Linked DNA regions of Homo sapiens: region 2 is linked to region 1. Evidence: fine-mapped expression QTL. A gene starts in region 1. The other region holds a variant in brackets. All regions are shown on one strand. Distances are from middle to middle. Region 1 holds the start of RASGRP3 (RAS guanyl releasing protein 3). Region 2 overlaps RASGRP3 (RAS guanyl releasing protein 3).

Region 1 (5,381 bases):
CTGGAATAATAATATGTAACACATAGAGTTATTGTGAGGAGACTATGAAAATAAATACACTTGTTTAGCGCATCATTTGGCAGAGTAAGTGCACAATAAAAGTAAGGGATTGTTATTAGCGTTGAAATTATGATGGAAGCCTTGAGCTCTCTCTTCTGGCTCTGCACCGTAACTCCGATAAATTTGCTACAGTTTCCTCATCTTTGATACGAAAGAGTTAAATCGCACATTCTATCATTCCTATCCAGGTCAAAAAGTCTTTGAGTCAATGGATGTACTATCTGCAAGTAAAATCATTATTTTTTATTATTTTGCTATTAATATTTTGAAAAGGCATGGGTTTTTCAAAGGAGCCTGTTGGCTCTCAAAAATACAGCAGTTGGATAATTCAACTGCTCCCATTTAGACATTCCATTTTATTATGGGAGGCTCGATGATTCCGGAGACACAATTTCACCAGAGGGTTCTCTTCCACTATCAACCTGTGGAAAATCTGAAACTATACCAGGAACAAACTCCCTAAAGAATGACTCAGGAGGAACCCCCTCCCCCAGCAGTCAGACAGGGAAGTCACAGACCACATGGCCGCGGGCTGACCCAAGGACCTCACACAAATGCCATACCGAGGAACAGAGAAGTTGGGACTATTTTTCCTCATTGGCCACTCTACATTTTGTGGATTCTTCTACATTTGAAGGAAAAGAAGGTGGAGAACTTCTCAATGTCAGACTAGCCATTTGTTTAGACAGGGCATCCGAAACTGCTTCCATCAGAGAACATTGGTTGGTGCGGTACTCAAGACCCACTGTGCTGAGGGAAACTCGATCGCAGAAGTGCCGTGCCCTGGGTCATTTTTAATCCATTCTCCACAAACAACAAAGGATGGTAAGGGTGGGGAGAGAACAGTGTTCCCTCATGGCAGGGGGCAGAGGGCGAAAGAAAACCGTATAGCTTGAGCCTGTATGAGAATCCATTTGTCACACGAGGAAACAAGCGCACTCCAGGTTGTCCTAGGCTTATCACAAGCAAAACAACTATTTGGTGAGACTTCAAATAAAAACAGCCCCTCTCTGCCCACCCTCCTCAAGATCCACGCGATCTCCAGAAACAGGAACCTGTTTGGTTATCTCCCTGCAGCCTCTGATTCAAAGACCTGTCACTTTCAGAGCTTTACGTCATCAGTTTAGAGCTCTGCCCTCTCTCTTTTCCCCTTTTGCCTTTCCTCTGAAGCATTCTGTCTGGTGACTACCAAGGAAGGACAAAAGTCACCGAACAACAGCTCAGTTCCAGCATGGTGCCTGCTTTGCTGCTCGCCCAAGCGCAAGCACCATTACTGCTGAATGAACCTGAGAAGGAGCCGGTTCTCTCCGTAATTTGGATGCCAGGCCTCCCAGAGTTAATCATCAGCTGCAGGCAGCACTTTCCCAGTCAGGTCATAAACAAGGAAAAAACAGCCTGAGTATCACGAAAACACTAAAATAAGGAAGACCAGCGGCAACCGAACATTTTAAAGTAATGAAGGTGAAGGAAGACCAGGGGCAACTGAACATTTTAAAGTAATGAAGGTGAATTAGCTTGTTGGGGGGAAAAAAAGTCGCTATAAAATACAGCTTTCAATTAGTTGGAAACCATGCAAGAAATCTAAATATGATTTCTAATGTGAATCTAAATATTATTTTGTCAGTCTTCTATATTGCAGACAGTTCTACACAGTTAAATGAGATATTCTCAAAAATTGAATAGGAAAAATCAAATCAGCCATACAATAAATTCACAAGTTACTTTAAACAACTACGTTTTCAGGTTTCAGTGGTAGAAACAGATTAAAATCAAATCTAGTCATCAACTCACTTCAATGAAGTCTCTACTTCATAACCTGAACTTGACTTTGAACCTAAACACCATGGACTAGAAAAATCTTGAACACTGGGAAACAAACTTTCTGTTTCCTAGACAGGAATGAAGCCATATGCCCCATTCATCCTCAAAGTTACAAGACACGTTGCCGAAAATAACAGGTTCTAAAAAAGGGCTGTGAAAACACCAATGGCTGTTAACAGGTACAAATAAAATATCTCCTTCTATCGTGCCAGAGGGAAACCAAAATCAAAATCAAAAGTTGTTGGTGGCTTGCAACACACACACACACACACACACACACACACACACACACGGAGAGGGAATGAAAGAGAGAGAGAGAGAGGAAAGTTCTCCAGTTACTTACTAGGGTGGTTTTGTCGTGGTATTTTTCACATCAGCACTCTGCCTGTCCAGCTGCCAAGTGCCGGAGCACGCCGAGAGCAGCTGTTTCCTTCAAGCTGGGGCTCTGAGTCTTAACCAGTCACATGTACCTCCTGATAAATACCGCCCGCCACCGTGCCAGGAGGTCAGAAACTGAAGATCATTCTTCTCCTCACTCGCAAACCACCTCATAACCCCTGAGTTGGCTCAGCCATCTCATGAGCATGCAGAGCGGGATATTCCACAATTTGTTTTCCTTTAGTGACAAAAGCCAAACAGCTGATAAGTCACACTGAAGGGCAGGTCACTGCAAGTGGAAAGTTAAATGTGTTTGCGTGTGTGTGTGCGCAGAGGGGGAGACTGGCAGGCTCCATGCTCTCTCATCTCACTCAAGTTTCACTGGGGCTCTCGAACGGCAAGAGAGAGGATCACCAACTCGCACAGCAGGTGGAAGTTGCTCTGTGTTAACCCCGGAGTACAACTGTTTGGTTTCGTTTTCTCAGAATCTCAGGCTCCAGTTTGTTAGACGAGCCACAAGCCTGACTAGGTGGCTGGTGCTGGGGAAGGCAGACCCTCACTCACCATCTAAGAATGCTTAGGTTGGACTTCAAAGGCCGGGGCTGCTAAGCCAAGGGACGCTGAGGGGCAAATATGGGAGGGGTTAATGAAGACTATCAAAGGCAGCTTTATCTGAAGAGCTCTTGGAAGTGATTTCAGGTAGCTTTAGACCAAACTTCCGCATTGTTATCTGTTGAATTGCATCGAGCAGCTGAGATTATCAGCCGGCGAGTGTGAATGCAAACAGAAATTATCACCAAGTTGACAACGCGCTTTACAGACGCACTACTGCCCCCTTTGGTGTGCTGGGAACTTGGAGCAAACTGCCGTTTTCTGTGCTGCTCGCAAACGTGGCAAACCATCCCTGATGTTTTGTTGAATTCATATGTCTCACCTGAGCTGATGTTCCCACCCTTCCCTTTTCATCCTCCCTTCCAAGGAAAGCCCTTGAAGTATCTGACTTTACGTAGTGTCTGACCTTGGATGTCTGACTTCTTGGTATAGTAAGGGTGACACTTCCCCGAATCAGTGTCTGAGCCTGCCCTTCAGGTAGAGATATGACATAGAGGCAGCCTATTTGGCAAAGTGAACATCCAGAAAAGATGGTTGAAGTCCCCCAGGGGATTTCTGAACCATAATGTGCCTGTTAAACTATTAACCCTGATTTTTAACACATAATATCTTACTCAGTGTAAGAGCCTGTGTGAGTAATCTTTTATATTTAGGCTTTGTCTCATAATTATTTACAGTGTTAATCAAACCAGAAATTTCCCTCCATATAGAGGATACAGTGTTTTCTAGAATAAGAGAAAAAGACAAAAAACCCTCAGTCTCACCATACTATCAGGGCAGTAATTTGTTGTCAACTTGTGAGAGTCCGAAGAGCAAATGGGAGAATTTTGTAAGCACCAAAACAAATCCCTTCCTCAGCATTTCAAGTTAGTAATAGAAATAAACTTCAGATATAAAAATGCAATGCATAAAATACACATTTCCCTCACAGGCATTTTTGTTTATGTGTTGATGTGACAATCTTCAATTAGAAACAGAAAAAGAGGCCTACTGAGGATTTGAAACATTATTTTGATTTACTTACCCCCTTGTATTTACAGTAATAGAAACTTTTGTGATCTGATGGCATCCATCCATCACTTTGTTTACCATTGACTGGGTTAATTATTCTGATGATCCATTGCATGCCACATAAAGAAACAGGGACTTCTAGAAACTCTTCAATGCCCAACAGCGACAACAGCCTCAGGAAAGTTAAGTTGTATTAGTCCATTCTTGCATTGCTATAAATACTTGAGACTGGGTAATTTATAAAGAAAAGAGGTTTAATTGGTTCATGGTTCTGCAGGCTATGGAGGAAGCATGATACTGGCATCTGTTCGGCTTCTGGGGAGGCCTCGTGAAACTTACAATCATGGTGGAAGGCAAAGTGGGAGCAGATGAGTCACATGGCCAGAGCAGCAGCAAGACAGACAGGGGGCACTTCTAAATGACCAGCGCTTGCCAGAACTCACTATCAGCTGGGTGTTGTGGCTCATGCCTATAATCCCAGCACTTTGGGAGGCTGAGGAGGGTGAATCACCTGAGGTCAGGAGTTTGAGACCAGCCTGGCCAACATGGCAAAACCCTGTCTCTACTAAAAATACAAAAATTAGCCGGGCGTGGTGGTGTGCTTGAACCTGGGAGGCAGAGGTTGCAGTGAGCCAAGATCAAGACCGCACCACTGCACTGCACTCCAGCCTGGGCAACAGAGTGAGACTCTGTCTTAAAATAAACAAATAAATAAAAGAACTCACTCACTATCATGAGAACAGCACTAACAGGATGGTACCAAACCATTAATGAGAAATCTGCCCCTAAGATCCAATCACTTCCCACCAGGCTCCACCTCCAACACTGGAAATTACATCTCAACATGAGATTTGGGTGGGCACAACATCCAAACTACATCATAAGTGTAAAGCAGGAGTCCCCAGCCCCCATGCCATGGACAGGTACCTGTCCATGGTCTGTTAGAGGCCAGGCTGCACAGCAGGAGGTGAGCAGCAGTCAAGGGAGCATGACCATCTGAGCTCTGCCTCCTGTCAGATCAGCTGTGGCATTAGATTCCCATAGGAGCATGAACACTATTGTGAACTGTGCACGCGAGGGATCTACACTGCATGCTCCTTATGAGAGTCTAATGCCTGATGATCTGAGGTGGAACAGTTTCATCCTGAAATCATCTCCATCCCCTCATTCCCGGTCCATGGAAAAATTGTCTTCCATGAAACTGGTCCCTGGTGCCAAATACATTAGGGACCACTGGTGTAGAGGTTCTTTTCTAGTTCTATAGCCAGGAGAGGAAGGGATGGATCCTCAATCCTCCCTATGAAGCAAACTGTTAACACAGAGGCCAAGACCCAGGACCCTTTCAGTCAGAGTCCAGGAGTGTGACTAAAGGTTCTACAATAACACAGCCTTGCAAAGAAATGGGGGAGATCCCATCTTTCTGCCCACACTCCCTACCAGTTCCAAGCATTGTCTTCGACTCAAGAAGAGGTGCCCTCTTCCTGTCAAGAGGCCACCTC
Region 2 (5,381 bases), 47 kb before region 1:
AAGAGTTGAAGTGAGTAGTCTTCCCTATCTTCAACTTTCATGAACAAGGGAACGTAATTTTTCGGTTGCTACATACAGCCCAATTAGGAGAGAAACAGTTTGATGAAACAAACAAAAAAACAAAACTCTCCGATATTCAGAGGCGGGCGGAGCACCTGAGTCAGAGGTCTGATCAGACCGTGCCTGCTCTGTCTCTGGACTTCCAGGTATGTCCCCCAGGCTGGAGTGCAGTGGTATGATCCTGGCTCACTGCAGCCTCAAACTCCTGGGCTCAAGTGATCATTCCACCTCAGCCTCCCAAATAGCTGGGACTACAGGCACACACTGCCACACCTGGCTAGTTTTTTTTTTTTTTTTTTTTTTTTTTTTGTAGAGACAGGATCTAGCTATGTTACCCAGGCTGGTGTCGAACTCCTGGCTTCAAGCAATCCTCCCACCTCCACCTCCCAAAGTGCTGAGATTACAGGTGTGAGCCACCACGCCTGATGGACGATACATTTGCTTATTGTTTAATTGCTGTAGAAGTTTTTTTCTTTTTCTTTTAAACTCACAGCTAAAAGTGTCCTTATTGAAGTAGCAAAGTGCACTCTTATATGAGAATCTTTTCATAAGGATGAAATGCTCCTTTTTGCTCAAGAAGAAAAACAACTATCATGTCATGAAAATAAATGTGGCAGAAACGCTCAGTTTGGAAAATGATCACTGTTTCTAATATATATATATATATTCATGACAATTCAGTTATAAATCTGAGGATTTCTATACAAGGCCTATGTCTTCCCCTTTCTATCTTCTGATGTGCCCAACACAGTGTTATGAATAGTCATTCAATGACTTTATTTCAGGAGGTAGGGTAGGAACTATTTCTGTCTTATTTACCTTGTGTATCACAATGCCTATCACATAGTAGGACCAAATAGATACCTGTTGAATATTTACCACTACAATATGTTGAGTTTTTTTTTTTTTTTTTGGTTTTTTTTTTTTTGAGATGGAGTCTCGCTCTATCGCCCAGGTTGGAGTGCAGTGGGGTGATCTCGGCTCACTGCAAGCTCTGCCTCCCAGGTTCATGCCATTCTCCTGCCTCAGCCTCCCCAGTAACTGGGACTACAGGTGCCTGCCACCACACCCGGCTAATTTTTTTTGTATTTTTAGTAGAGACGGGGTTTCACCACGTTAGCCAGGATGGTATAGATCTCCTGACCTTGTGATCCGCCCGCCTCAGCCTCCCAAAGTACTGGGATTACAGGTGTGAGCCACCGTGCCCGGCCACCACTACAGTATTCTAATGGTATGTCAAAGCATTCTTCCTAGGACACTTACCACCACCTCCAACCTGTTTTTCCAGGTGGACTCAGCTGGTGTGGTTATTCCCTTTCTACTTTGTCCCCATTTATAACCTACCACTGGTTTAAGAGGAAAACTTTCCCACTCTGAGTGACATTTGTTAGGCGTATACTAAACCTGAACAATTTACAAATGCATTTTTTTACTTTTGATTAGGATCAAGTCTACTATACCTTTGTAACTTCTGAAGAAAGATGAGAATGGGTCTCTTTGAGGCGTGAAATGGAACTATGACTGAGGCCTCCCACCACTGCCATCAGGGTGTTAAAATTTTTGAGCTGAAGGAGCTTCTGCAATAAAAATGCATCAATGCTTTTTAAGGATTTTCAAATTATTCTAAACTTTCTGAATTACAAGTAAATTTATGCACAATTTTAATAACAAGAAGCTAAGGAAAACATTACATCAATTTAAAATGAAGCACAAATAGAATCAGAGAAATATATCTATTATTTCACAGAGAAATAGCTACATTAAATGCTTCTAAGCATTGCTTTCTGAAAGCAATCTTCTTGCATGACAAAAATACGATTTGTTCATTAGATATCAGCGAGTAGTTTAGTTGTCCGATGCCCTTATACTGTGAACGCCACATTTCCTCAATGACTTTTCTCAACAGAGTGAACGAACATCTAGAACTCAAGAACCCAGTCTGATTACCAGACATACCTTTGCAACATTGATAAACTTTGTGATGACTTCTGCCCTTTGCTGGGGGGTTGGTTTGCTAAGAACCATCAACTGGACCCACTTAGAGATTCCATTAAATAAAGCAATCGATCTTTCCAAGGTTGGATTATTCTCCAGGCAGCCATGGATGACATAGCTTTGGTAATCAGTGAACTAGGAAAGGAAGATTCAGAGACTCTGAATTA[T/C]AATAGAGCCTTTGTAAAATCAAAAATTAGAATATTGCATAGAAAAGGTGAGATATTGTTTCGTAACAACACAATTTCTTTTATTTCACATTTACAATGGCATCCTAAAAGTTTGAATATACATGTGTCTTTAAAATGTTATTTTGCTGCTTTTCAAACCCCACTACTCACCCCACGCAAAGACACCCACTACTACACATCACAGCTTTGGTGGGAGGAGAAAGAGGCAAGATTCAAAGTTGTATTCCAATGAGTTCAAAATTTACTAGGTGATAAGATTCACCTGTGGCACTTGGTAAAATGCTGGTTCCTGGGAACACTCTAGGTGTAAATGATCACTATCTTCAGAAGAAAAACCTAAGAATCTCCTTTTTTTTTTTTTTTTAACCGACTGTCGCTCTATTGCCAGGCTGGAGTGCAGTGGCGCGATCTCGGCTCACTGCAATCTCCGCCTCCCAGGTTCAAGCAATTCTCCTGCCTCAGCCTCCTGAGTAGCTGGGACTACAGGTGCAAGCTGCCACACCTGGCTAAATTTTTTAGTATTTTTAGTAGAGATGGGGTTTCACCACGTTGGCCAGGAAGGTCTCGATCTCTTGACCTCATGATCTGCCCACCTTGGCCTCCCAAAGTGCTGGGATTAAAGGCGCGCCCGGCCAAGAATCTCCATTTTTAACACACTGCTGGTGATTCCAATCAGGCAAGTTAAAGATATAACGGTATACAATAAAGACGAGGAAATGAACGTAAATATAATTATTTCAAGTTAGCATCAGTTGTAAAGTTGTTTCAAGAAAAAGAAGACAGAAGAAAAAAAATTAATTGAAGTAAGGCTGCTCTTTAGCAAGGCAAACACATTTTCAGAATGTTAGCATGGATGTCAAAAAATACATAAGAGCTTTCTATCATATAAACTGTGCAGGGGACTCCCATGGCCTGCCTGTGGGGAATTGTTAAGGTCCTCTCCAAGTAGGATTACTTAGTGAAAGAATCAGTCTTTCAGAAATTCATGCTTCTAACCAAGACAGTCTTCTTTGCACGCAATAATGTAATTCATTCTCTGACACCTTGGAAAAGGAGGAGGAGCGACTTCCCCACAGCTTGGCGAGACAAAGCAAAGTGGCTGGCTGATTGTGAACCAGTGTGGAAAATGTTTACCATAACGGGAGGAGAGAGAGCAGGAGGCTAAGAAATCACAGACCAGAGAAAGAAAAGGGGGAGTTAGAGAAGGAATGAGGCTCCATCAAGATGAGTAGGAAAGAAAAGTTTAATTCAGGATCTCTATCTCTGGGAAAGAAACAACCTGATGTTGAGATTCTCCTTAAAGTCTACAATTCCTATTTTCAACCTATACCCATAATTAGCCATTTATACAAATCCGAACCTAACTAAATATTTTTTCCCAAAAACGAAGGGCCTAGCAAAACATGTTCACTTGGGAGAAGTCAATGGAGCTAAATCAACCTTGAATGGTTAAATCTCCACTGACTGTTTAGAAAAATCACGCTTTAATCCTATGAAAGGAGACATTGAAAATAGCGACAGAAATATAGCTCCTGAGCCATAAAATAAAGACAGGATAATATTTATCTTTGGTTAAAAGGGATTGTTCCTGTGAATTAAGGGCACTTCTCCAGCAGAGCACAGTGATAGAAGCTGCCAACACTTCAGAGTATGAAAATGCAGCTCTTGGGAAAGTTGGCATGGTGGTTGTTATCCTTGGAAGAATAAATGTCAAGTTTCTTACTGAGATCCTTCTAAAAGATTTATGCTCCAGAAAAGTGAGGTGCTCAGCCAATTCAATGGGCTCCAGATGGTCAAACAGCAGACAGGCTTTTCCCTTCTTGGATACTTTTTTCCTCTGTGTGACTCTTCTCATCCAGTCATAGGAAGGACTATAAAAGAAGAGTGAGTCCGGTCAATGTGTTGAAAGCCCATTTCACTCAATGGAAGTTATTAACCTACTGACTCTGCAACTCTTGGCTTGCTTCCAGGGACTTGTGCAAAATACATGCCCTGTCTTTCATATTGGAAGAGAAAACCACTGACCAGTTGCCAACAGAACATAAACTTGCAGTTGTTTTTCCAGACAGGGTAGGTTTTGCACTGAACCATCCAGAATTTCTTACTTAGTGTCTTTGTGACCGGCAAGGTCTGGATCATACAGGAAAGGTCGGGGCTAGTATATAAATTTGGGAGTTTATCAGGATATAGGTGGTGATTTAAGACACATGGAAACCACTAGAAGCTGTGGTTCTCATACTTTAGTATAACATGAACTATCTGAAAAGCTTGTTATAAAGACAGAGGCCTGGGCCTCGCTGCCAGAGGTTCTGACTTATTAGGAATGATCCTGAATAATATGTATTTTCACCAAACATCCCTTATAATTCCTGGATCATTCACTATTGATTACTATTGAAGAAGTATTCAATAGTAATCGACAGTGGAAAACAGAGTAGACTATGAATACGTAACACACAAGAACAGACATTTGCAAGATGGATAGCCATATTTAGGATCATCAAATAGTCTTCCCTGTGCAAAGTTACCTAGTTGATATGAAAGTGGCCTAATTGCACCGGTTACCTAATAACTGAGCTAACCAGCTCCTGGCACATCTATGGTCAACCACCATAAGGCTGTTGTTCTGAGGCCAACCTCAGCAGCACCATGGTACAGAGCTTCTCAAGCTTGCATGTGAATCACTTGGGGATCTTTAAAGTGCAGATTCCAATTCAGGTTTAAGGTGGGGCCTAGAGGCTGCATTCCTAATGAGCTCCCAGGTAACGCCAATGCTGCTGGTCTGCAGACCACACTTTAATCAGTGAAGGTGTAAGAGACATTAAGTAGATTCAGACTCAGTAACTAACACTGAGCATCTATTGCATGCCAAATCCTTTCATGTGCTATCTTGTGTCCTTATTGAATGTTCATAATAATCTCATGAGAAAGGTATCGTCCACATTTTACAAATAAAAAAAACTGAAGCTTGGAGAGATGAGCTGTGTCCCATACGGCTTGCGCTCACTGCAGCAAGGCTTTCCTCACAGAAGCAAACCTGGATTCAGGAGTGGGATGGACTCAGAACAAGTGGGGTGATCACTACTTCCTCCCCTAAGTGGTGGACTTATTGGGTGTGAAAGACGTCGGTGCCACTCT

What was found. PIP is the estimated chance that this variant, and not a neighbour inherited with it, causes the effect.
Region 2: its variant is the best candidate, but not a certain one, in a credible set for the expression of RASGRP3 in thyroid (GTEx, PIP 0.50).

Annotation. Positions count from the first base shown.
Region 1 is chr2:33,473,551-33,478,931 of GRCh38, reverse strand. RASGRP3 (RAS guanyl releasing protein 3) reads right to left here and starts at 2,283. Exons shown (of 18, transcript NM_001139488.2): 1 at 2,225-2,283. RefSeq lists an enhancer at 2,628-2,947.
Region 2 is chr2:33,520,688-33,526,068 of GRCh38, reverse strand. RASGRP3 (RAS guanyl releasing protein 3) reads right to left here. Exons shown (of 18, transcript NM_001139488.2): 7 at 3,967-4,114; 8 at 2,017-2,190; 9 at 1,521-1,637. Among named protein-coding and RNA genes, the nearest start is that of RASGRP3-AS1, 46 kb to the left of the region's middle. The variant T/C (reference allele first, on the strand shown) is at 2,223.